Regions from separate parts of the Homo sapiens genome. Here regions 1, 2, 3 and 4 are each linked to region 5. Evidence: fine-mapped expression QTL. A gene starts in region 5. Each other region holds a variant in brackets. All regions are shown on one strand. Distances are between the middles of the regions.

Region 1 (5,108 bases), 140 kb after region 5:
GTATTCCATTGTGTATATATACCATATTTTCTTTGTCCATTCATCTACTGATGGACACTTAAGTTGATTCTCTATTCTAGATATTGTGAATAGTGTTGTGATAAACATGTAAGTGCTGGTATCCCTTTGACATATTGATTTTTCCTTTGGGTAGATACTCAGTAGTGGGATTGCAGGATCAAATGCATACTATTGTTCATTCCACCTCCCCTCCCTACCTGACACTTCCCTGCTTTTCAAACTCTATTCTTTTTGTGACCCATGCCAGTCTATCTTGGCTTTGACCCTTTTGGAGTAGCACTTACTTCCTCTCCTGCTCATTTGGGCCTTGGACCTCTTATTATTCTCTAAATGTCTCATCCGTGTGTATGTCTCGCTAAAAGACTGCAAATTCCTTGAATACAGGGCCATGAGATCTCTCAACAGGACAGTTTTATGTCAGGTATAGAGTGGTAATTTTTTGTTGAATTAAATGTATTATGCATGTGTGTTAGTTTCTGGGGCTGCCATAACAAAATACCACAGACTGGGTGGCTTAAACTACAGAAATTTATTTTCTCACAGTTCTGGTGGCCAGAAGTTCAAGACCAAGGTGTCAGCAGGTCTGGTTTCTCCTGATGCCTCTCTCCTTGGCTTGCAGATGGCCACCTTCTCACTGTGTCCTCACATGGTCTTTGTGCACACACATTACTGGTGTCTCTGTGTTTCTAAATTTCCTCTTCTTATAAGGTCAGCAGCCAGATTGGATTAGGACCCAGCCTAATGGCCTCACCTTAACTTAATCACAATGCGACTTAATCATTTTAACTGAATCAGAATGTGACTGTATTTGGAGATAGATTTGGGGCCTTAGAGGCTTTTAAGTGAAGGGCCTTATCTCCAAATACAGTCACATTCTGAGGTACTGGAAGTTAGAGCTTCAACATGTGAATTATGGAGAGAAGGCTGACACAGTTGAGCTCATAACAGAATGTGTCTTTAAAATAACTCACAGTTGTACTGAATATGAAGTGCTGATCAAAAGTTAGAATGTCCTATAAATATATGATCTCATATATAGAGGGATTTAATAAAAATTGATTTCAGAATTCACTAGCTTTGATTAAAATAATTTCCAGGTTTCCAACAGGTAAGCCAATGATAGCTACGTGGTCTGCCTAATCACAAGTCATGGCCCATTTGAGATTTTAAAATAACCTTTATTTTACCCAATCAGTTAGCACATATGTGGGAGAGGCCTAACCACCCACCCACTTCTACTCCCTCCAGGTGTCACATCAGCAGGTGTGAATCAAATTAGCAATTTGTGAAGGAAGCTGAATGTAATCAGTTACACAATTTCCAGCTGTTCAAATTTAATCCATTAAATTACATCATGAAACAGACCCATCATGAAGCACTGAAAATAAAATGAAAAAAGCATGAATAAAGGCCTTTCCCTGGGAAATGCTATTATGAGAGAGGTCTCCTGAGTCCTCCAGACCTGTGTGTGAGTCCTGGCTCTGTCACTTAGTAGTTTCTGAACTTGATCAAGGCTCAGTTTCCTCACCTGGGAAATAGGGCTAATAATGATCACTGCATACATAGGTTTTGAGAATTAAATGAGATGTTGAAGGAAAAAATAATCCTCTGGTATGTGAACAGCATGAGAGTAAGGACTTTGTTTCTTTCCTTCATTGATTTATCTCCAGTGTTTAGAGCAATGACAGAAAATAGTAGGTGCTCACTAAATGTTTATTGAATGAATTAATGAATAAATAAAAGAACTCCCACAGAGCAATAGTGATAGCTTTCATGGACATAAGGCAGAGGTTCTCAAGTCTGGCTGCACATTAAAAGTGGGGAGCTTTTAAAAAAATACCAACGCCATGGCCCCCAACCTATAGAATCTCATTTATTGGTTTGAGTTCAGCCTTTAGCATTGGGATTTTTTTCCCACAGCACATACCATCTTCTAATACACAATTTAATCAATACATCTGCTCTATAATCTTATCATACACATGCTAATTGTAATTGTGTAATAATAAATATCATATTTTTTGTTTCTAGTTCATCTCTTCCCTCTAGCATGTAAGCTTCATGAGTGTAGAGCTTCTTCCTAAGTGCTTAGAACATACTTAACACCTAGATTCTCAATACATATTTGATAAACAAATGAATGATCAAGGTATATGATCCAAATAATTTGGAAGTAGCTGAAGTTTATTTATTTATTTATTTTTTTGAGACGGAGTCTCGCTTTGTCACCCAGGCTGGACTGCAGTGGTGTGATCTCAGCTCACTGCAAGCTCTGCCTCCTGGGTTCATGCCGTTCTCCTGCCTCAGCCTCCCGAGTAG[C/T]TGGGACTACAGGCACCCGCCACCATGCCCGGCTAATTTGTTGTGTTTTTAGTAGAGGTGGGGTTTCACCGTGTTAGCCAGGATGGTCTCTATCTCCTGACCTCATGATCCGCCTGTCTAGGCCTCTCAAAGTGCTGGGATTACAGGCGTGAGCCACCGCGCCCGGCCTGAAGTTTATTTTTTTTAAGTGGCAAATTTTACTGATTAGAAAGACAGAAAAGTTCAATTGGTTGGTAGTAGGAGGTGAATTAGAGGGAGGGGCTATCACCACAGCTGGTGGGTGTTGGAGAAGGAATCCCACACCTCCTGGGATGAGTCCTTGGCAGGGATTAGACAATGGAAAGCCCAGGTAAGTCTAGAGGAAAGTTCCAAGGCAGGGATGCTTGTGATTTTCTTCCTAGGTGAAGTCTGAGAGAACAGAAAGCCACTTAGATCCAGGGTCCCCTGCACCAATGGAGTTCCCAGTAGATTAAAAATGGTGGAGTGGTTTGCATGAGCAGAGAAGAGTTTACAGCCCATTATCATCAAGTTTCCTGGCCCCTGAAGTAGTGTGGAAGAGTGAGGAAAGTTTTCTCTAGTCTTGGGAGGGGTGAAGAAGTGGCTGAGAGTGGCCAGAGACCCAGGAGGCCTTGCCATCCAGACAAGAAGGCTCCAGGTGAGCAGCATGGTTCTGGCGCCCAGAGAGGAGGGCGGAGCCTGCATGGCTCAGCAGCAGCTACAGTGTGGTTAGTGACAGAACAGTGAGAACCTCTGTTATATTAGTATATATTAGTTATATTAGTAGCGGACACAGCGTGTGACTGGGGCAGATTGAGATGGAGAAAGGACGCTCTATTCCAACAGGCAGCTGCTTTAGGTCCTGCGACTGAAAGAATCTCTGGTGGGCTGAAAAAAAAAAGAGTTAAAAGCAGAGGGTGAGAACTTTGGATTAAGTTTTCTTGAAACTGACTAGACTAAGTTTTCTGCTTCAGGTGGAATGCACTTTGACAGCTAAGGTGGCCAGGATTTTAGGGACACAATTTTTTTAAAGTTCCATTTTTGTACATCTGAGTTTGTGACTGCAAAATTTATACCTGTACAGTAGCGATCTTATTACGTTTTATCATTATTATGCACTTGGCTCACGTGTGTGTCCAGTCCAGTGGCTGCCCATCAAGCACGGTCTCCATGGCCTCATCATCACCAGCAGGACACTCAGGTGGCTGGCTTGCATGGTTCCTGATCACATGGCCAAGCTTTGAAGGCTCCCATCAGGGTCAGCTCCAGGTGAGCTTCTTGGGTCTTGAACAGAACTGACCCTTTGATTTTATTTATTTATTTATTTTTTGAGACAGAATCTCACTGTGTCACTCAGGGTGGAGTGTAGTGGTGAAATCTAGGCTCACTGCACACTCTGCCTCCTGGGTTCAAGTGATCCTCCTGCCTCAGCCTCCCAAGTAGCTGGGACTACAGGCGTGCGCCACCATGCTGGCTAATTTTTTTGTATTTTTAGTAGAGACGGGGTTTCACCATGTTGGCCAGGCTGGTCTCGAAACCCTGACCTCAAGTGATCCGCCTACCTCAGCCTCCCAAAGTGCTGGGATTACAGGCGTAAGCCATTGTGCCCGGCCAGATCCTACCCTTTCAGTATCTTCAGATGGCAGGGTGTGGAATAGTCTCTGATGTCTCAATTTCCCAGCCAATGTATTAAGCCTATTTGATTTCTGTGGCCAACCATTCCTCAAACTCCAGGATGGCCTCGAAGGGCACAGACAGCTTCGGTGAACTGGACTGGAGCCCAAATTTGGTTTTAGAAGAATAATGAGCTGGTCTCTCATGCAAACACACATCTTACCTGAAAATCTTTGAGCTATTTCAAGATTCAACTCAGGTTGGTATTTAAGGCCTTATATACAGGAATCTCCAAACATTCCCTTGAAGACACATGAAGTTCCTTGTTTTCTGTGAGTAGCAGGCTCTTTCAGCTGTCTTGGCTGGTTTTACATCTGGTCCTTTGATTGCCGAACTCCCTGCTTCATCCTTTCCACTTCTGTTCATCCTTTGAGTCCTGGGTCAAATGCTGCATCCTTTTTGAAATCTTTCCTAACTCTTCTGGTCTCAGTCCAGGGACTCTCACAGCATTTGATACTGTCTCTAAAGCACTTTTCACATTGTTCTCTAATTATTTATTTTTATACTTATTCTTTCGCTAGTCTGTCAATTGTTCAAGCCAATAAGTTGTGTGCCTAATTTGAGTTATTCCCAGCATGCCCTGCATCTTCCTGCAAGTGTGTGTGTGTGTGTAGTGTGTGCACGTAGAGAATTCCCTGGAAATCACATAGCTCTGGAGTCTTTCTATGGAGTATGACATGATCAGTATCCTCTCAGGATAGTATATGATCACATCCTATTCCGCAGAAAGGTCTTTGAGCACAACGGCATTCCCACTGGAGTCCCATCAAGGGAGCCTTGGTTCCTGAGAACCTAGATGAGTTGTACCTAAAGTGTGGTTCCCAGTCCCACAGCCTCAGCATCACCTGGGAATGTGTTAGAAATGCAGATTCTGAGGCCCACCACGACCAACTGAATTAGGAACTCTGGAGTGGGCCCCAGCAACTGTGTTTTCTTATGCCCTTCAGGGGATTTTGTGGGTGCCACTCCCGGCCTTGGACCCACTCCAGGCATCTCCATGGTTACAGAGGCAGGGAATTGGGGGCTGGCAGGGAGTGGGGAAGGCTGAGGTGGGTAGAGGAGTGAAACTCTCCCACAGTGCCTTTCACTCAGATTGG
Region 2 (5,108 bases), 150 kb after region 5:
ATAAAAATAGCATTTTCACTTATTTCCACTTCAAATTTATGGTCATTACTATACCTGTGTCTAGATTTTATTATTTAATGCAAAAATAAAGAATCACATATATTGCTTCCCATTGGGTTTGGCCAACAGGACAAGATCAGAGGACATGAGAGAGAGGTCAGGGTCTTGATTCCCCTGGCTCCCCTCCTGTGTGGCTGGAGGTCAGCAGAGACTGTACTCGTTGCTGAAGGCCATTGCTCCTGTCAGGAGCTCTCTCCACAGCTCTTTTGGGCCCCTGTGAGTCTGAGGCTGTGATATGGTTTGGCTATGTCCCCACCCTAATCTCACTTTGAACTGTAGTTCCCATAATCCCCACATGTTGTGGGAGGAAGCTGGTGGGAGGTAATTGAATCATGGGGACTATTACCCCCATGCTGCTGTTCTCATGATAGTGAGTGAGTTCTCATGAGATCTGATGGTTTTATAAAGGGCTTTTCCCTCTTTGCTAGACACTTCTCCTTCCTGCCATCACGTGAAGAACATGTTTGCTTCCCCTTCCACCATGATTGTAAGTTTCCTGAGGCCTCCCAGCCATGCAGAACTGTGAGTCAGTTAAACCTCTGTCCTTTGTAAAATACCCAGAATACTGCAGTTCTTTATAGCAGCATGAAAATGGACTAAGATGGGTGGTAATAGTTCTCTGTTCTTGCTGACTCTGTGATCCTTCACCATTTTTGTTTGTTTCTCTTAATCTGCCCCCATAACTTTTTAAGTAGCTATTTCATGAAATGCTCTTTAATCATCCCCTTTGAATGTGCTCTGTTTCCTGCCAAGATCCTGACTGATACACTCCCAAACTAGATCTAATTCCTCTCTTCTTTAAATTCCCCCCTTCTTTGGGCACTTCCTGTAGTGTTGGGCTTCCCTATTAGACAAAAGACATCTCTTGAGCACTTATCATCTATCAATCAGTCACTATTCTGGAGGCTAGGGAATACAGTGATGGACAAGACAGATGACGTCTTTGTTACCTTGAACTAGAATAATAAAATGAGCATTAGTAAGTGCTTACCATGTGCCAGGTGCTTTAAAAAGTCCTTTACATGTAGGAAGTCATTTAATCCACACAAGAACTTTGCGGTATATTTGTCAAATAAGGAAAAAGAACCACGGAGAGAGTAAGTAATTTGCTGGAGGTCATACCGCCAAGAAGCAGCAGAGCTGTAATTCTAACCCAGGAGGCCTGACTCCAAATCTCATGCTCTTAACCACATCACTATGTTGTCTCTTACTAGCTTAGCATCCTTTTCAATAACCAGCACATTGCCAATGCTCAGCAAATATTTGTTGCACTGATTTGAGTAAATAGTCCCTTTAGGAAAGGAAGATAGCAATGGGATTATGCTTTTGGTAGTTTCAGCAAAATTTTGATTTCAGCAGCTTTTAAGAAGAGTTTGGTTTTCTTTTGTTTTATTTTCAAGTGTTTATCTGCAGTAGCAGGTGGTAAGAAAAAGATTCTCTTCCCCGTTTAGCTGAGTAAATATCTAGTCATGTGGCTGGATCTTCATCCCAACACAATTATGTGCTCTCATCCTGGGCAGGAGGCAGCCTTGTGACACAGCAATGCTCAGTGGGTAATAGTTGTAGCAAATGTTTAGTTACAACAGAATAGCACCCAACTCTTAATCATTAATAGGAACCCATGCAAGAGTTCACTGCAGCTGTGACTTCTTTTCCTGGTGATTCATTCTGTTTGAAATATAATGTACTCAAAAAGCAGCAAAAACTATAGCTAGAAATCACTGTAATGGTGTTCATGAAAGCTATTGCTAATTTAGGGTCCAATTAAAACTAGAAATCCAATTATTGCTGAATAACATAATTGCAAGAAAGTAACCTGAATTGCACATATGTCAGTAATTAAGGAGGAAGCTTTAATAACAGAATCTATTTGAACTATTTCAAGGAGGGGCCAAAGAGGCTGAGGATTGGCTCCAGGGTGGGTCAGTGCAAGGAATACCCCAGCGGTTGGGTGCTTACAGTAGGCTCCGAATTTTGTCAACATGGTTTGCTTTTACAGCCTAGCTCACGGGGTCCTGGCAAGATAAATGCAGAATTTAAGAGCAGGATAAAATTGATCTCTGAATCCACATCCTATGAAGCATCAAATACACCATGAGCCCTGAAAAATTAAATATTAGAAGGTATTATTTGTTAAACACTTGAGATGCTATAGAAAGCAGTTGGCAAAATAAATGTCAGATATTGTACCTTTACAGTTCAAACTCTGATTTTGACCTTGCTGTTAACTTTACTGCATTGATTCCATTACTTCCAGTGGAGTGGCTAGGCGGGTGAGAGTCTGGGTTTGGAGAGACAGAAACTGGGCCTATCCAGTGTGTCAACACTTGGACACAGGAAGGGGAACATCACACACCGGGGCCTGTTGTGGGGTGGGGGAGGGGGGAGGGAAAGCATTAGGAGGTATACCTAATGTAAATGACGAGTTACTGGGTGCAGCACACCAACATGGCACATGTATACATATGTCACAAACCTGCACGTTGTGCACATGTACCCTAGAACTTAAAGTATAATAATAATAATAATAAAAAGAAAGCAGCCTTGGGTTTTGGCAAGGTCTTGCTGCCCAGCAAACGATGTAGTCCTCTTTATTTGAGTGGTCTGCAGAGGTGGGTAGCAGCATCTCTTACAGAACCCCAGGCAGGTGATTCATTTACTGCAGAGGCAATCAGGTAATGTGAACTCTTACTGAAATATAGTAGGGCTGCAGTTCTTAGAATGCGTGCGTCAGAGTCTCCTAGAGGGCTTGTTACATACATACAGATGCTGGGCCTGACCACCTCAGAGTTTCTGAGTCAGTAGGTCTGGATTAGGGTTAGGGTCTGAGATCTGCATTTTTAATAGGTTCCCAGGTGATGCTGATGATGCTTGCTGGTTTTGGGACTACATATTTTTGAGAACCACTGTGGTAGGGTAGATGTCAGCTGGGTCCAGTGAGGAGGAGCTGGAGTTAGGAGTGTGAAAAGTTTGTTGGAGAGTAAAACCTGTGTGAAGGGGAAGGTC[G/T]GAATCAGAAGCCGGGCCGGGCATGGTGGTTTATGGCTGTAATCCCAGCATTTTGAGAGGCTGAGGCAGGAGGATCACTTGAGCCCAGGAGTTCTAGACCAGCCTGGGCAACATGGTGAAACCCTCTCTCTACTAAAAATACAAAAATTAGCCAGACTTGATAGTGCATCCCTGTAGTTCCAGCTACCTGGGAGGCTGAGGCCAGAGGGTCATGGAGGGCAGCTGATTTGGGAGGGGCAAATTAGCTGGCAAAGGTTAGGAAAGGGGTCAGAGGCTTTGCTAATCAGATTGGGGTTTAGAGTATGGCTCCAGCCCCACTGAGCATCAGGTATATGAAACAGATAAGCAACTGTGTACCGCTTAAAAGTAGTAGTGATAATGGGCACCATTTCTTGAGGTCCTACTATGTGCCAGATGGTTTACTTAATTTTAATTTTTGAAGTAGATCTGTGAGGAAGGTGATATCATTCCATTTTACTGAGAAAGAAGCAAGAGCTCTGAGAATTTACATGTATGTTATCCTGTTGCAACTTCAACTCTGTCTGATCCCAAAGCTTGAGTCCACCCAGGAATGAGCGAAGGTGATGTAGGGAGGGGCTGTGGCTCAGGTAACTGTGAGCAGCAAGATGTTTTCAGAAGGATCTGGCGAGGCAGAGACTTCTAACATCTTATGTGTTCCTGTCAGGATTGGCTCAGGACCTCCACAGAGGTGAGTTTTCTGGTAAAGCCCTTACTCGATAACTCTGCTGAGTGTGTGGAGAAATAGGAGCCAAGAGTCACAGCCATTGCCTTATAAATCACAATCCCCAAATGGTAGGCAAACATTTAGTCTTAATCGTAAAGAGGGAAGGTACTTGTATGAGTTTCTCATGGCTGCCATAACAAATTACAGAAAACTGGGTGGCCTGAAACAACAGCAATGTATTCTCTTAAAGTGCTGGAGGACAGAAGTCTTGGATCAAGGTGTTGGCAGGACCATACTTCCTCTGGGGGCTGTAAGGGAGAATCCATTTTTGCCTTTTCAGCTTCCAGTGGCCCCAGGCATTCACTGGCTTCCTTGATGTAAGGCCGCATCACTCCAGCCTCTGCCTCCATCTTCATGTTACCTCTCCTCTATGTGTTTTCTCCTTCTTTGTCTCTTATTAGGACACTAGTCGTTGGGTTTAGGATCCACCTGGGTAATCTAGTTAGATCTTCTCTCAAGATTCTTAATTACATCTTCACTCTTTTTCCGAATAAGGTCACATTCACAGATTCTAGGGGTTTGGATGTCTTTTTGAAGGTCATTATCCAATCTACTACAATCCTCAAATAAATGTTTCCGAGGAAATCAAGGGTAAAAGTTGTTAGAATGTTTACACAAAATAACTTTTGTTTGTGAATGGATGAGATATTTTCTAAAAAGTCATAATTGAGTAGTTTTCTATGGACTCTGAAACCCAGATTTTACAAATAATATTTCTGGTGGGTACTTTCAAAGACGGTCACCAATACTTCCTCCCAACAATTTCTCCCTATCCTTGTGGAAGGATGTCCGCATCCAAAGATATGCTCTATTTTCCTCTCTTTGCACCTGGCCTGACCTTGTGACTTGCTTGGACCAACAGAATGCAGTGAAGGTGACCTTCTGGATTTCTGAGCCTGGGCCTGGCAACTTCTGCTTCACTTCTTGGGAGCCAGCTGCTATGTAAAGAAGACTGAGCAAGACAGCTGAAAGATATGTAGAGAGAGAAGCCAAGACAGTGCCCAGCTATCCCAGTCACACCCACAGACTCACCACATGTATGAGTGAAGCCATCTTGGACTTTCCAGCTGAGCTCCCAGCTAAAGGCAGCTGCAAGGGTGATCCCAGCTGATGCCATGTGAAACAGAAGAACCATCCACCTGAGCCCAGCCAAGGTACCGAATTGAGAAAAATAACAAATTGTTGTTTCAAGTTAGTAACTTCTGAGGCAGTTTGTTGTGTCACAATAGGTACATAAAACAATGCTGTAAATTATGTCATTCAAAAAGTTTAACATGGGCTAAAGGAAATGACACCG
Region 3 (5,108 bases), 130 kb after region 5:
TTCTGTGATACAATGGCTTTAAGCAGTAAATGGCTACCTGAAGGTGTGGGATAGCCATTTGAATATTGTCAAAGGATTACTAGCAGGCTTGTATCATGGATTAGAGAAGGGAAACCCTTCTTTTCAGTGGAAATGTAGTCTAGCCAATGAGGCTTTTTGGAAAAGCATCTCCCTCAGAGAGAGGGGGCAAAAAGCAATGAGATTCCATTGAGCCATTCAATCATCCAACTACAATCTCTTGAGCTTAAGCAAAAATTCAATATATAAGCAATACATGTCAGAGTAGTGACTAGAGGGCTTCCCTGACTATCAATGCTTTGGAGGAATTCTCCAAGGGACCTGGAGTCCTAGCAAGCTGTTTCTTGTTTGGTGGTACTGACAGAATATAAAATGTACCACCAGGAATATAAAATGATGGCTCTCTCTTCTAGCTTATAAATTAAGAAAGAGTGGGCATATAAAAGTTGCTCTCAAAAGTATAACAAATAGTGCAGTAAGATATGAAAGTCTTAGTGTGAGTCTAATTTCAGTGTCTAATGCCTTGTCTATAAATCTGTTGTTCAACATTATTAATATATAGCACCAAACATGGGGATGATAAATACAGGCGGCTCAGCAAATTTGTATGTATAGACAAAGGACTGGGAGAAATACCATTACTGAAAATGCTTTGTTCATTGGGGTCTTAATATATAACAGCACCTACTGCAGTGTGGAATGCAGAAGTAGGCAGATCCTTCCAGCAGCATTTAAAAAAGGCTTTATGTTGGGGACACCAGGAGAGCTTTGTTAGAACCTTATTTTACCTCTATTTTACCTTTACCATGACATGCCAGAGGTGTGTCTCCCAGAGGGAGGCCTGTTCATTTAACTTTTATAAATATTTTCACCCTCAGGGGTTCCAAAACACTTTATAAAGTAGATTTCAGGCTGGGCATGGTGGCTTGCACCTGTAATCCCAGCACTTTGGGAGGCCAAGGTGGGCAGATCACCTGATGTCAGGAGTTTGAGACCAGCCTGACCAATATGGTGAAACCTCGTCTCTACTAAAAATACAAAAATTAGCCAGGCATGATGGCATGTGCCTGTAGTCCTAGCTACTCAGGAGGCTGAGACAGGAGAATTGCTTGAACCCAGGAGGTGGTGGTTGCAGTGAGCTAAGATCATGCCACTGCATTGCATTCCAGCCTGGGTGACAGAGCAAGATTCCACAGCTTCTCTCATGTGGATAACCCTTGTTGGCTTCCATATATGGAGGAGAAACCTCATACATTTTGTAGGCAGAGCCAGTTCACTCTTGATGAAATAGTCACTGGAATAGCCCAGGGCCAAAGAACTTCCTTCTGAGAAAATATTTGAATTGAGCAAAATTCTCACTTTAAAATCTGCATTAAGCTCTCAGGTTACCACGAACTTCACTGGGCTAAACTTGGGCTAGATTGGACTGAACTTGGATCAGAAGCTACACAGGGCCATTTTCCTGTCCAGGTGAGAAAGAGTTGCTTGGAACAGACAGTAAGGGGAACAGCCCCAGGGAAGCTGCAGAATTCTTTCTGTGACCTTCTGATGCTTCTGAGATTTGAACTTTGGCTTCCATCCAGTTGGATTTCCTACCTGTCCCCACTACCCCATTTAATTAATCTGCTCTTGCTTGTTACCCTAAGCACACAGGCTGATTCTTTTGGTTCCTGGTTATTTGCTCTGTGTTGCCCTGCTTTCCTTGGCTTGAGACCTGATCTAACCGCTGTGCACTCAGATACTACTTTTAACTCTTTATGCACCATAGTCCTTGGATTCTGCTGCTCAGTCAGTTTTGTCCCAAGAAACATGGCAAGTAGGCCAGAACTAAGTCATCACTTGTGATTACTAAACTAAGTAGGGATTAGCTCCTGACTTCTTTGTCAGGCAATGAGGTTTAAGAAAAGTTTTTAAAAAATACTTGATTATGACCGGGCGCGGTGGCTCATGCCTATAATCCCAGCACTTTGGGAGTCCGAGGTGGGTGGATTGCCTGAGCTCAGGAGTTCGCCAACAGCCTGGGCAACACGGTGAAACCCCATCTCTACTAAAATACAAAAAATTAGCCCCAAAAATTAGCTGTAGTCCCAGCTACTTGGGAGGCTGAGGCAGGAGAGTTGCTTGAACCTGGGAGGCGGAGGTTGCAGTGAGCCGAGATGGTGCCAGCGCACTTCAGCCTGGGTGACAGAGCGAGACTCCATCTCAAACAAATGAACAAACAAACAAACGAACAAAAAAAACTTGATTATAGTAGGGCTACTTTTTAAATTTTTCCCTTTT[C/T]TTCTATCAATATTTTGCCCCTTAAATTATGTTTGTCATTATTAAATATTATGCATAAGCAAGTGCTAAAATAGATCTTTCCAGTGAGTTTCTAGCTATAGACGCTTTCCAGCCACAGCACATGTCGGGCATTGTAGCCATCCCATTGGTTTATGTAAACATCAGTTGAAGTGAGCGGAAGGATGGGGTCAGGGAGGCAGGTAGAGGAGGAAGAATGGTCAGCAGGAGCAGCCTCCTGGCATCACATCAACTACAAGAGCTAATTATCTTGAGTGCTAAGCATCTACCACGCATTTTTTTAATGCAATCTTTAGAACTGCACTGGGAAGTCTGTTTCTATTGCTGATTTGGATGTGGAGAAATTGAGGCTTAGTGATGTTCTCCTGTTTACACAGCCAATAGGTATAGGGATTTAAATTCAGACCCATCTAACTGCACAGCGTGAATGCTTAATCATCTTGTTAAATTGCTTTTACACTTTTATGAGTTGGTTGAAAAAATATTTAATGATTGACATTTACTAAAAATCCAATATGCCCTTCAATAAATTTGTATTTTGTCAATTACACATTGAAAGACACATGGAAAACAGCAGAACTCTCATTGAGAAGTGAGGTCTAATTGCCCTCTGCTTGAATCACAGGCTGGTCCTGTGAGTGCTTTGAGCAACAGAATGACACTGTGTGGTTTCCAAGGCTAGGGCATAAGAAGCCTTGCTGCCTCTCTCTGCCTTTTAAAAATACGTCCGTTTTGGGTGCTATCTTTTGCAACCTAGCCACTCTGAGAAGCCCCATGTACATAGAAATTTCACATATAGGTGTTGTGGTTGACAGCCTCAGCTGAGCTTCCCACCAAGAACCAAAAATAGGCAATTGTACGAGCATGACATCTTGAATGTTCCAGCCCAGCCAAGCCCCCAGATGACTGTTGACATCCTAGCACTTCAGCCAGTACCATGTGGAGCAGTGGAACCACCAATCCACCCACAGAATTAGAAGAGAAGAATACATTTTTTTTTTTGGCTTCTCATGGGTGGGGGGGTTGCTACACAGTAATAGATATCTGAAACACACATCTGTGTGTGATAATATGCTGTATGTAGTCTGCACACAGTGAATGACTGTGCTCATAGTGATTCAAGGATCTCTGGCAATAACTGCAGTCCCATGAGGTCTGAGGCCCACTGTTTGGGACCAGAGAAGAGGCTCATGGGAAGCCTCCTATAGTGATGCATATCATGTATATTGGCAACATCATAATTCATCTGAGTCCCAGACGGTATTCTCAATTGTCCCAGATGGTGTTCTCAATTGTCTCACAGAGGATGGAAACTTTCTGTGGGGTGCCATGGAAAGTTGAGTTAAAATGCACACACACACACCCATAATTTAGATGATCTCAAATGAACAGTATGTATCTGGGTGACATTTGAAAGAAGCAGCCATTTGGATTTCTCTCTTCCAAAGACAAAATACAGGCTAAATGATGCATCAGTAAGTGCTTTTACCAGGCATTCTTAATAGCCTTGGTTTATATGCCTATAATTCTAACATGGGATTTCAGAATGCAATAAACAAAGAACAAAGTGCAACCATTTTACGATATTATTAAAATAGTGCATATAATTGTTGTCTAGTAATCAGAATATTTTAAAAGATACTTGATTATAATGGGTGCTACGTTTTAAATATTTCTCTTAACATTAATTCATCTATATAGGAAGTTTTTTTTTTGTTTGAGATGGAGTTTGGCTCTTTTTGCCCAGGCTAGTGTGCAATGGCATGATCTCGGCTCACTGCAACCTCCGCCTCCTGGGTTCAAGTGATTCTCCTGCCTCAGCCTCCCGAGTAGCTGGGATTATAGGTGCCCATCACCATGCCCGGCTAGTTTTTGTATTTTTAGTAGAGATGGGGTTTCACCATGTTGGCTAGGCTGGTCTCAAGCGCCTGACCTCAGGTGATCTGCCTGCCTTGGCCTCCCAAAGTGCTGGGATTACAGGTGTGAGTCACTGTGCCCAGCCTAGATAAGAAGTTTAAAAATTATTCTTTTAAAAACATGATCTTAGTTTTTAAGCTTTGGTTACATTCTTTTGGTTATGATAGTTACTGTTTATTGTGCACCATGTGCCCTACATGACGGTGAACCTTTCCGTAGCCCCGCAAGGTAGTTATGACCATCCCCCCCTTATAGGTGGAGAAACTGAGGCTTAGAGAGCTTAAATCTCTTGCTCAAGGTTACTTGCTTAATAACTGCAGAGCCAGGATTTGAACCAGAGTCTAGTCGACTCCAGAGTCATGGACTCATGCCATCTTCTATGACTGCACCTCACATTGCCCTTCTAAAGAGCTTATGATTCAAAAGGCAATTTGTAATAAAGAGCCAGACTGGAATGGAGGGTTTAAAAGCGCTGCCTGCCCTTTCGGGTATAAAACATTTTGTTAGAAGCAATAACAGCACAATTACAGCAAATGTCTCCACCTTCACTGTCGGTTACTGCACACAGGTCTAGGTTACAAGTTCAAAATTTCACTGATTATTGGTGCATAATTGGCTTCATGTGGATGATAAACGTATTACTGATTGATTATCATGACTTGGTCATATTTGAAATGTCAAAGTAGAAAATTGAATTGTCATATTATCACATGTTCTCATTCAAGCACCAGATAAATATTACAAATGATGATTTTCCACTGAGTACTGTATAAAGAATTTATGGAATATTAATAATACTGTTATCCACAACCTTCATGCTTGGTGGATGACCCCAAACTGAAATCATGTTTGACTTTTGAGGAATAAACCTTAAG
Region 4 (5,105 bases), 55 kb after region 5:
ACAGCATTGTAGGCTACAGTTCTAGTGTATTAGTAGCTAAGTTTCTTGTCCTATAAACTTGACAGATACAGCTTCTAAACAATCAGTTTATCATGGTATGACTATACTCACTGATGAATTATAAAATTTAGTGTTGATGTTCATTTTAATGTAGCAGGCTTTGTATGCCTTCAGAAATTAATACTGTATTTTAATAATGCTTTATTATGGGTTGTCAGAAGGTGATAAAAATGAAGAAAAGTGCTTGTGGGGTTCTGAGACTTTGCAGGATAGAAAAGAAATGCATTCCTATAAAAATGAGATTTCCTTTGTTTCCTTTGAGTATTAAAAAAAATCTACTATTAGAGAATTAAGTTTCCCTGGTTTTATTTGATCTTTTCTTTGGTTTATAAGTGTGTACCTTTAAAAATACGAGTAATAGTTTTAAGTTGATTAATTACACTTGATTTTTTTTTAAAAAAATCTTATTTTTAAAAGGATTTCAGATGATTAATTATCTTCTGTGTTTGTTTTGGGTCTGTGTTAACTACAGCTTACATTTATTCATTTTTCAACTTAATGAAGTTAATCTGTCTTTTATGATGCTCCTGCTTAGTGTTTTTATATTTCCTTATCTGTAATTCAGTAAGAAGTGTAATTTTTAAAAGAATTGTATTCAGACAAGGATATTTATGCAAGTTTCAGACAGAGGCTTAGTCATAGCCATGGAATGCAGTGAACAGTATGAATTATAAAGGATGTGAACCATCTTTAAAGTGTGAATTCATGGCTATGTCTACCAGCAAATCTGTTTTTATAGTCCATGCATATTTGTTAAATATTAGTTGTTGAGTGAATAAAAATGTTTAAAAATTACAAATTCAAAATCAGAACAAAACATTTTATGGCTCTATAAGGTATTTTCTGCATCATGCATTTCATTCTGAATTATATTTCTTGATGTTTTGTGTTAACTTTGATTTACTTTACACCTTGCTTATATTTGCAAAACTCTCTGCAAAGCAGTCTTGAATGTTTTCCTTCCCATAGTACTGACTTGCATATAGTGAACACTTAGGATTTGTTGGATTGAACTGCCATTCTCCTGTATTTTCCAAAGATGTACTATTCTTTGAAAATACCTCAAATTGCCTAATTATGGTCATCACAGCTTCACTATTTCATGTCGTTCAACTGACAGTATAAAGCATGAGCTTCCTAAAAATCAGTGTACTGGGCCCTGTGCCACTGAAAAGAGGGAACGATTAACTGTACATGGAAAGGCTTCTCAGAGGAGCTGACATTTGAACTAAGCTGTAAGGATGATGAGTACCAGGCAGAGAAGAAAAGGTAAGGATAAGTCAGGCATAGTATATAGTATAAAAAGAGGTCTGGAGTCAGGTAAGGGCACGTGTGGCCTCTGGGAAAGGGACACCTAGATGTAGGTTATGTACTGTACAAATATGCAGGCACTGCAGATTATGTAAATGGAAGAATGCAGTGTCTTTAGGCTATGTTTATATAGGTGGAAATTTTGGAAATTTATCTTCTTCCTTAGAGGTCAGATTGCTTTTTTCATATGATGGGCAGAAAGAGGTCTAACTAATGAGACACTGTTTTTATTTAAGAAAATATTCATCAAATGGCTTTTTTTTTCCAGTGAAGAAGAAAACATTTTTTAACCACAAACACTGGGATTTGAATCACATGAAAACAAAGAAACTTAATCTCGAGTACTACATACTCCTGGGAATCAATAGTCTTCCTCTATTCTTAAATGCTTTCATTTTATTGTCATATAGTAAAAATAATGATCATAGTAGTTTGGGCTTCCCATAATTTTCTGCCACTCAACCAGTTGTTCAAGTGTTTTTTGTGCACATTGAAATATTTCTTGAAAGTATCACTTGGTGAAGTTTACCTTCTTCAACCTGGCTACACTTTTAACCCCAAACAAATTTGTGTATCTGTTTACAATACAGCACTTTCCCCAGATTTCCACCATTCATTGAGCTTCGTCCTTCAACAGGATTTTTGAACTGACTTGGCATGGTGTTGTTTGCTTAATGTTTGGATAAGTAGTGCTGTCTGGTGGTTAATTAAGTGCATGGACTTTTGGAGCTAGACTGTTGGGACGGAATCCTGGCTTAACCACTTACTGCATTTATAACTGAGAAAATCCTCTCTCCTTGCCTTCGTTGTTTCATTGTCAGATGGAGATAATATTACCTATATTATAAATGTGTTAATACATATACAACTCTTTTATATGTATATATATTTTATTATACTTTAAGTTCTAGGGTACATATGCACAACGTGCAGGTTTGTTACATATGTATACATGTGCCATGTTGGTGTGCTGCACCCATTAACTCGTCATTTACATTAGGTATGTCTCCTAATGCTATCCCTCCCCCCTCCCCCCACCCCACAACAGTTCCCGATGTGTGATGTTCCCCTTCCTGTGTCCATGTGTTCTCATTGTTCAGTTCTCACCTATGAATGAGAACATGCAGTCATATACAACTCTTAGAATGGTGCCTGGCATGTAGGTAGCAAGCACTCTGTGTGCTATTGTTATTTTTATTACA[T/C]TGTTCCTGGCTAAGTTTCCCCATCTCTTTTTAAAACTTTTATCTTCAAAACAATTTTAGACGTTTATCTTGAGTATGTGTGATTGATTTTTAAAAATCACTCCAAGGGTGATGGTTTTATGCAGTTAATGCTTACAGTTTTTCTTGCTCAAAAGATGCCAAAGTTTAGGATCTCTTTGCATCTCTACAGTGACAAAACCCATGTTTTAAACAAACATCCAAGTTCATCCTCTTCTCTGTAGATTGACTGCAGCTTCCTGCAGACTCACTAAGTGTGCTTGGGGTGGTTCTTTCATTTCCTCTCCCTCAGCGTGCTAGTGAACCTCAGGGATAACCTGGGAGATTTCTGGTTCTGAATTTCCTTTGTGATTTTGCATTTTTCACCAACTTCAACTTCCATATAAAATGTTCTACTTTTAAGCCCCATCCATCTTTCTAATTGAAAATACACCTAGTTGAAAATACTAAATCACAAAATACCTGGTTGAAAATACAAAGATTACTTATTATTTCCACTTTACTACCACAGCCTTTTCCAAAATTTATTTCTCGATATTAGTATATTTTATAGTAAAAGAAGGACTCTAGCCAAAAATATATCTTGGGACAAACAGGTCAGACAACACTCAACAGATTTATTTTCTGTTTTACTTTTTAGACTTTTTCCTGTGCTAGTCTGAATCCCCATGAAGAGTGCCTAATATTTAGCAGTTTTCAAATGTGTTTATTGTTGGGATCCTTCTGTGCAGTTAGGGTTCTGTGGGACATGCTGAACTATGTTATCATCTTACATTCCTCCCACCATATGCCTTTACTTCATTTCCTTCCATTCCAGCCTCAGCAGTATTATTGCCAGAGTGGTTTTTAAAAGGTGGGACGCGGGTGTGGTGTGTGGTAAAGCTCTTCTTTTAGCCAGTCCACCTTTTATTAGTTTCACCGAGATACTCGTAGGGCTTTTGGTTGTCTTCTTAACCAGTATTTCAGTCTTCTCTGCCCTTGCGCATGTTCTCCAGGATTCCCCCGGAGATTTACCATGGCTGTCTTTCTTTAATGGGAGATAATAGTTCTGTTTAATTTATTGAAAATATTTGTTAAACATCTAATTTCTGTGAGACGTTAAATGGAGATCGTTCATATTAAACTGATTGAAGAAGTTTGGAAAATAATTGAACTTACATATGTACCTTTGCCTTTTAAATTTTTTATTTTTTAAAATTTTCTTTCTCTAGTGTTCTTTTGAAGATGACAACATCCGTTCCTTATTAAAACCTTTAGAACTGGAACTACAAAAAACAGTGCATACATACTGTGGAAAAATTTACAAAATATTTATCAAACAACTAGCAAAAAGTGTAAGAGATCGTTATGCCAGATCACCAAAGGAAAAGTGATTCTTGGTGACTGCTTAATCAAATGGATGAAAACAAAGAATCAGAAGATAAGTGTGAAGGAATCGTCTTGGATGAAGTATTCAGGAAGGAATTACTCATCTCCAGAATAATTTTTTTTTTCCTAAAGAAGTTAAGTAAGCAGTATTTTCAGGTAATGAAGAATAAGTTAAAATCTTGGGCCTCAACATTGAACATTTTTTATCTCTGATGTTTTGTAATGTTACTTGCTATCATTCCAGTATTGATGAAAATACTATTGAATGGGTTTAACCTGCAGACTTCTGTTGACTCATACTCTCAAGAGTGGTAGGGGTGTGTAGATGGAGAAAATGTACCTCAAACAGTGCCAACACTCAAGACTGTGAGTAGAGCAATAATTTTATGTCAGCACTAACCTCACTTTAAAAGTGTGAGAAAAAAGTTTGTTTACAGGAGCAGAAACAGGTCTGTTGTTTCTGAAGAAATGTGATGTAACTGATGTAACCATTGACAATCTATGTGTGCCTTTATACATTTCATCTCTGTTTTAAAATATTTTTATGACAATCATGTTTAAAATTATTTTTAGATTACAAGTAAGCTGCATGTTAAAAATTGAGCTGTGTAAGGTAGAGGAAAAATAGTGAAAACTTTGGGATTTTAATCTGTGTGTGCGTGTTTGTGTGTGAGAGAGAGTGAGAAATGTAGTGTTTCATTTTGTATGCATTAAACTGTCTTGCCAAAACTCAGATCTAAGATTGTTAAATAGATATTTGGGGAATTTTTTTTTAATCACTTTAAATGAAAAACGTCAGCTTTACTGGGCATTCTGGAAGCAAAATATATTATGCTGATGGTAAAGTGAGAACCTTAAGAGTATACTCATGATGGTGGAAAGTGTGATGGACCAAAATGCATAAGCTATATACTTCCTGTGAGTAGTAATTTTAGTTACAATGGAGTAGAAAAATATGGTCCATTTAAACTTGTCTTCTACCTCATAACGGCCTTGCAAGATACTTTTGAAGAAGCAAATGTCTAGAGCCTTACTTTAAGTAAGTTAAACAACTTAAGTGGATGATTTGGAATAAGATTGTTACATCCAGCTGTAGAAAATGTGGTTTTAATTGGGTTGATGTGCATTTTTGAATATCACCTAAGA
Region 5 (5,108 bases):
AGTTATTCTTAATTATTACTACGTTTAGTTTCTTTGTTGAAATAGAGAAGAGTTATAGTTAGTATCTTTTAAATTAAACATTTTTTGAGTACTAGCTCTTACTCTAGTTTCTTGGTACCATATCTTTCAGCTTTCTCTCAAAAGGTATTTTCATTCTTATCAATGCTTTTCCTATCATTCTGGATACTTCGTTAAGTTTATCTTCATTTCTCTAAGAAGTGTAAGGTGTAGTGGAAGTATTAATTTAGTATACTTGTGGTTTCTATTTGCCTGTTTTCCCTTTGAGAGCAGTACACTCCTTTTATTTCTGAATACTCTGCATCAGAGCCCCTTGTCTGGCATGTAGAATATGTTCAATAAATGTTTATTGAATGCATAAATGTATGTTCTCATTCTCTTTACACATCTTGATAGCATGCTAATGTTCATTTTTTATCAGGTAAAGCAAGAAGGGGAGGAAGTTGAACCTTAAATTTGTTTAGTGACTTTATCATGGTCACAGAACCACTACTTTTTTGGTATAGGGAGCCAAGGATCCAAATGGAGACTGCTACTATTTTGCGCAGCATTTCCCCACCTTGTATCTCATGGCCAAACTTTTCAACGCCCCAGATGCAATTTCAGCAGTTAAACGCATGATTTTTCCCCATGAATGTGTGTTCGTGTGTGTGTGTATTTTTAAGTATCCCTTCCCTCACTTTTTGGCACTGGTGCTGCTTTCTGCCTCCAATCTCTCCTCTCTCTGTTTCAGCCTCCACACTACAGCCAGAATCTGCTCTCTAAAATGCAATTGTGATCATGTTACTTCCCTATTTAAAAACCCTTCAATGGTTCACTAATGTCTTGCAGATTAAATTCAAACTCCTTGGTGTGCTAAACAAAGCACTCAAATATCTGGCCCCTTCTACGCGCTTATCGCTCATCATACCCTCTCTTGCATTCACTTAGCTGGTGGTATCAAACTTCTCAACAGTTCCCTACACAAGAGCCTGTTTATTGATCCTTCAGCCTGGAATTACTTCCCTTACCCGACTCAAGACTCTAGCGCCACCTTTGCTATGAAGTCTCTCTTGACCATACTCACAGATAGAACTGATTGTTCCTTTGTGTGTATGCCCACACCCTTACAGGCCTGGATCTTAAGTCTGTTATCACTGCGTTGCGCTTATTTACAAGTATCCGCTGTCCCACCCACGCTCCACTTAGGCCTCTTTATACCCCTAGGTACTCACACAGAGCTTGGCACAAGTGATGCTTTATAAATGGTCAATGAATGAACGTAGTGGAAACACAGAAGAAGAGGGAGAAGAACTGGGGAAGAAAGAAGCTCTGTGGAGAGAATACTAATTGTTTTGCACATGAAAATAATGAGTTGTGAGGGAGGTCAAAAAGGTCAAAGGGAAGAGCCCTGCCTTACAGGAACTCACTGTCTGCTGGGAGGCAAGAGGTAAGGTCCGCATACCAAACACACGAAGCAATGAGCTTATCGGGGTGAAAATGGCTCGTGCACATTATAGTATCACAGAAACTTAGAGGCTGGGGGAGGATGGAGAGGAAACTGGCCTAGTCAAGTGTCTTCTAAGTGTTAGGCGGTTTTCGAGCGTTAAACAGTTTAATCTTTACAACCACCCCATGATGAGGATAGTAGCTCCATTTTAGGGACGAAGAAACATGCTCAGAGAATTTAGGTTGCCCAATGTCACAAACTACCATGTGGAAGGACCATAATTAGAATTTAGGTCAACTGCCTCCAGAGCCCTGAGGCTTTCGCTCCCCCTCTCTCGGCGGTCGAGACCCACAGGGCTCCCATTCACCTGCGCGTCGGCCTGCGCTAGCTATAGCCCTCAGGCGCGCCGCGTTCCGCGCACTCACACCACCCTCTGCGCGCCAGCCCTGCGTCCCTCCCACGCGAACTGCGCCGGCGCGTCCAGCCCTCCCGCCCGGGGGAGGGGCGGGGTTGCGTCGCTGCCGCTGACCCTTGAGCGCGCGGCGGCAGAGGCGGTGTCCAGGCTTCCGGGCGGGTAGTCCTTCGGCTCCGGAGCCGCGACTGCGCTCGCCTAGGTGGTGGGCGGGGAGGGAAGGAAGGGAGCGGGCGCAAGGCGGCGGCGGCGGCTGCGGGTGAGGAACTTGTTGCGCCCGCGGCTGCGCGGTGCCCCTCCCTCCGCTCCAGTTCGTCGGGGCGGGCGCGGCGGCGGCGGCGAAGGAGGAGCGCGGCCGGGGCGATGCGGCGCTACCTGCGCGTCGTGGTGCTGTGTGTGGCCTGCGGCTTCTGCTCGCTCCTTTACGCTTTCAGCCAGCTCGCCGTGTCCCTGGAAGAAGGAACGGGCGGCGGTGGCGGGAAGCCGCAGGCCGCGGTGGCTTCCTGGCTCGCGGGCGGCGGACGCGGCGCCGTGAGAGGCGCCGGCGTCGCGGGCCCCGCAGCGCATCCCGGCGTGTCGGACAGGTACGGGCAGTTCCCGGTGTGGGGGACGCGGCGGGCGCGGGGCGCTGGGCGCGGGCTCGGCCTAGCCCGGGCTGCTCGCCGGTGGGTGCCGCGTCTCCCGCGTCTTTCCTCCTGTCTCTGACCCCTCACTCATTTCCCTCCTTCCCCTCCGGCCGGGGCTAAACCTGCGCTGCTCCCGCCTGAGAGTGTCCTACACTTTCTGTGTTTATCTTTTGACCCAGTCATGCGCCCTTTAAAGCAGTTAGAAATTAATTTTCAACTTTTTAAAAAGAGGGTTCTTTGAAAATAAGAGGTGTCCACAAAAGCCTTACTGCTGCCTGGCTAGTGAGAATTTCCTCTTGTTTCAGTGGAGTTCAAGTTGAGATATTTAAACATGAGGCTGGCGCCCTAGTTCAGTGTTTAAGGATTGTGTGTGTGTGTGTGAGTGTATATGTGTGTGTATTTTGTCCCTCATGCTGATTTTCCTGTGTTAACGCTTACACTTCTAAGTATTAGCCATGGTTAGTTAAATTTGGAAATGGCATTTGTGCGGGTTGTGAAATTTTCTTTTGGAAACACTCAGTTTATTAAGAAACTTAGAGCAAATTAAGAAAAATGAGCGATACTTGGCGTGCTCAAGTCTGTTGTTGGATGGGATGGAGTTACCTTTCTTGACAAATTGGTATTTAAAAAGCGACGTAATGACTTAGGACGTAATCACTGCCAGAGTGGGAATCAACATGAGATTTAAATAGAAAAAAAATGTTTCTGTCAACGCATTATGAATGCTTGAAATCTGAGCGTTTGCACTGCCTTGCAACATGGACACTTCCACCTTATGTATGGGCATCTCTCTGGGAATGACCTGAAGTGCTCCCTACCAAGACTTGGCAAATGCTGCTTTGATATAGAGAAGTATAGGGTTTGTCGGAAGAGGGAGTATAGATCAGTTGTGGGCTGTTGTTTAACATCATTTTGAGAGTCGATGGTCATTCCCAGAATGAAAGGGGAAAGTTTGGGCAGAGGAGCAGCGTGGAAAGCGGACTTGTCATGTTTTTACCCTGAGATTTGATTACAGTCAGGGTAATTCCTACATCAGGACCCTCAGTTGTCTGTCCTGGGAGAAAGCAGTCACTGAAGACTTGAATGAGCTCGTGAAAAATGACAGGTTGAAGCTAAACTGTTTATGGCCTAGTATGTTATTGTGAAGCATTTGCAATTATGGAAAAGGAATTATTTTTATATGGGGTAGAATTGTAAGGAAGCAACATTTTAATTAAATATTGAATGAAATTAGACTGATGTTAACATCACATTTTTAGTGCCTTGGTCTTAGATATTTTATTTTGTGACAGAAATTTACAAATTTTGTTTGCTTGACCAGCTAATTTTAATAAAATTATTTGAAATTTTCGAAAATAGCCTCAGTTTTAATAAACATCCAATATAATCATTACTGAAACGTTAAGTTTTATGTGTCAGGATTGAGTCAACCGAAATACTGTACTTTTTTAGGTCCTTTGAGTAGCATTACTCTTTATTTTAAATGAGGCGTACATCTAAGTTAGAACTATAGGTGTATTTATCTCTCTTTGTAAAAATGTGATGAAGAACAGCATGTCACCACATTTGCGCGCATAAGAAACCATTTGGGCAGGGGAACAACGTGGAAAAGTTGGATTGTGAAGTTTTACTCTATGGTTAGATTAAGATCACGCAAATTACTAAGACCTCAGGACTCTATTTTGTATATCGTCATTTATAACATCTTTATAGAAATGTCATAGAATTAAATCAACTTTTGGCAACGCTCGGTAGCTCACGCCTGTAATCCCAGAATTTGGGGAGGCTGAGTGGGGATGATTGATTGCTGGAGGCCAGGAGTTTGACACCAGCCTCGTCAACAACCCATCTTTACAAAAAATAAAAAAATTAAAAAAAAATTAACTGAATGTGGTGTTTCACACCTGTAATCCCAGCACTTTGGGAGGCTAAGGTGGGAGGATCACTTGAGCCCAGGAGTTCAAGGCTACAGTGAGCTATGATTGCACCAGTGTAATCCAACCTGGGTGACAGAGCAAGATCCTGTCTCAAAAAAAAAAAAAAAAATTAACTTTTTTGGCCACCATGAGATACGGTATAGAAATCCCTAACCTCTTCATGTATAAATCATTTGGCCAAGATCCAAAGCAAATCAGTGTTGGAGGAGGATTAGAAACTGTATCCTTGGAGTGTTATACAAGAGCTCTTTCTGTAAAGAAAGATAAGGGTCTAGTTTAGATAGTGGACTCAGTGGGCAATGGGGCTATGGGGCAAGCCAGCAGCTTCCTCTTTTCAGTAGTACTTAGGTATTATTGCATTTTTGCCTTTTTTGATAACATCTTACTTGAAAGATTATAACTATTTCTCTCTTTTTATTTTAAACACGGGATCTAGGTTTGTACCCAGTAAGTTCCATTGGTCAGATCTTATAAAAACTATTCATGGTATAGAATTTCATGACGACAAAAGACTTGGAGTCCTTGAAGTAAGAACTTTAAAATGAAAGGAACAGTTTTTCAGTGGAATCTCTTATCCGTTAGTGTATTCTGTTTGAAGCCATGATTTTAATAATCAGAAAATACATGGGTCTTGTAGTCAGATAAACCCGTGTTCTCAGTATTCTGGCTCTGGTTGCTGTGAGACT

Direction of the effects. Alleles are on the strand shown, and positions count from the first base shown. SD is a standard deviation of normalised expression in the study named. Not every link is listed here.
For the expression in monocytes of the gene that starts at base 1,995 in region 5, allele T in region 1 goes with a higher level than allele C (large effect, 0.79 SD a copy in Quach 2016).
As copies of C replace T in region 3, the expression in monocytes after R848 of the gene that starts at base 1,995 in region 5 goes down (moderate effect, 0.67 SD a copy in Quach 2016).

The links. PIP is the estimated chance that this variant, and not a neighbour inherited with it, causes the effect.
Region 1: its variant is the best candidate, but not a certain one, in a credible set for the expression of GXYLT1 in monocytes (Quach 2016, PIP 0.68).
Region 2: its variant is the best candidate, but not a certain one, in a credible set for the expression of GXYLT1 in spinal cord (GTEx, PIP 0.88).
Region 3: its variant is the best candidate, but not a certain one, in a credible set for the expression of GXYLT1 in monocytes after R848 (Quach 2016, PIP 0.60).
Region 4: its variant is the best candidate, but not a certain one, in a credible set for the expression of GXYLT1 in whole blood (INTERVAL, PIP 0.60).

What each region holds. Positions count from the first base shown.
Region 1 is chr12:41,998,899-42,004,006 of GRCh38, reverse strand. The region is part of intron 2 of LOC105378247 (a long non-coding RNA gene); the gene reads left to right. Among named protein-coding and RNA genes, the nearest start is that of GXYLT1, 140 kb to the left of the region's middle. The variant C/T (reference allele first, on the strand shown) is at 2,341.
Region 2 is chr12:41,988,746-41,993,853 of GRCh38, reverse strand. It overlaps LOC105378247 (a long non-coding RNA gene), which reads left to right. Exons shown (of 4, transcript XR_944875.4): 3 at 4,674-4,965. Among named protein-coding and RNA genes, the nearest start is that of GXYLT1, 150 kb to the left of the region's middle. The variant G/T (reference allele first, on the strand shown) is at 3,067.
Region 3 is chr12:42,008,816-42,013,923 of GRCh38, reverse strand. The region is part of intron 2 of LOC105378247 (a long non-coding RNA gene); the gene reads left to right. Among named protein-coding and RNA genes, the nearest start is that of GXYLT1, 130 kb to the left of the region's middle. The variant C/T (reference allele first, on the strand shown) is at 2,299.
Region 4 is chr12:42,086,645-42,091,749 of GRCh38, reverse strand. It overlaps GXYLT1 (glucoside xylosyltransferase 1), which reads left to right. Exons shown (of 8, transcript NM_173601.2): 8 at 3,803-5,105. The coding sequence ends at 3,964. It also overlaps the pseudogene LOC101929308. Among named protein-coding and RNA genes, the nearest start is that of GXYLT1, 56 kb to the left of the region's middle. The variant T/C (reference allele first, on the strand shown) is at 2,574.
Region 5 is chr12:42,141,761-42,146,868 of GRCh38, reverse strand. It overlaps GXYLT1 (glucoside xylosyltransferase 1), which reads left to right and starts at 1,995. Exons shown (of 8, transcript NM_173601.2): 1 at 1,995-2,443. The coding sequence starts at 2,223. RefSeq lists an enhancer at 1,568-1,637 and silencers at 1,798-2,297, 2,378-2,607.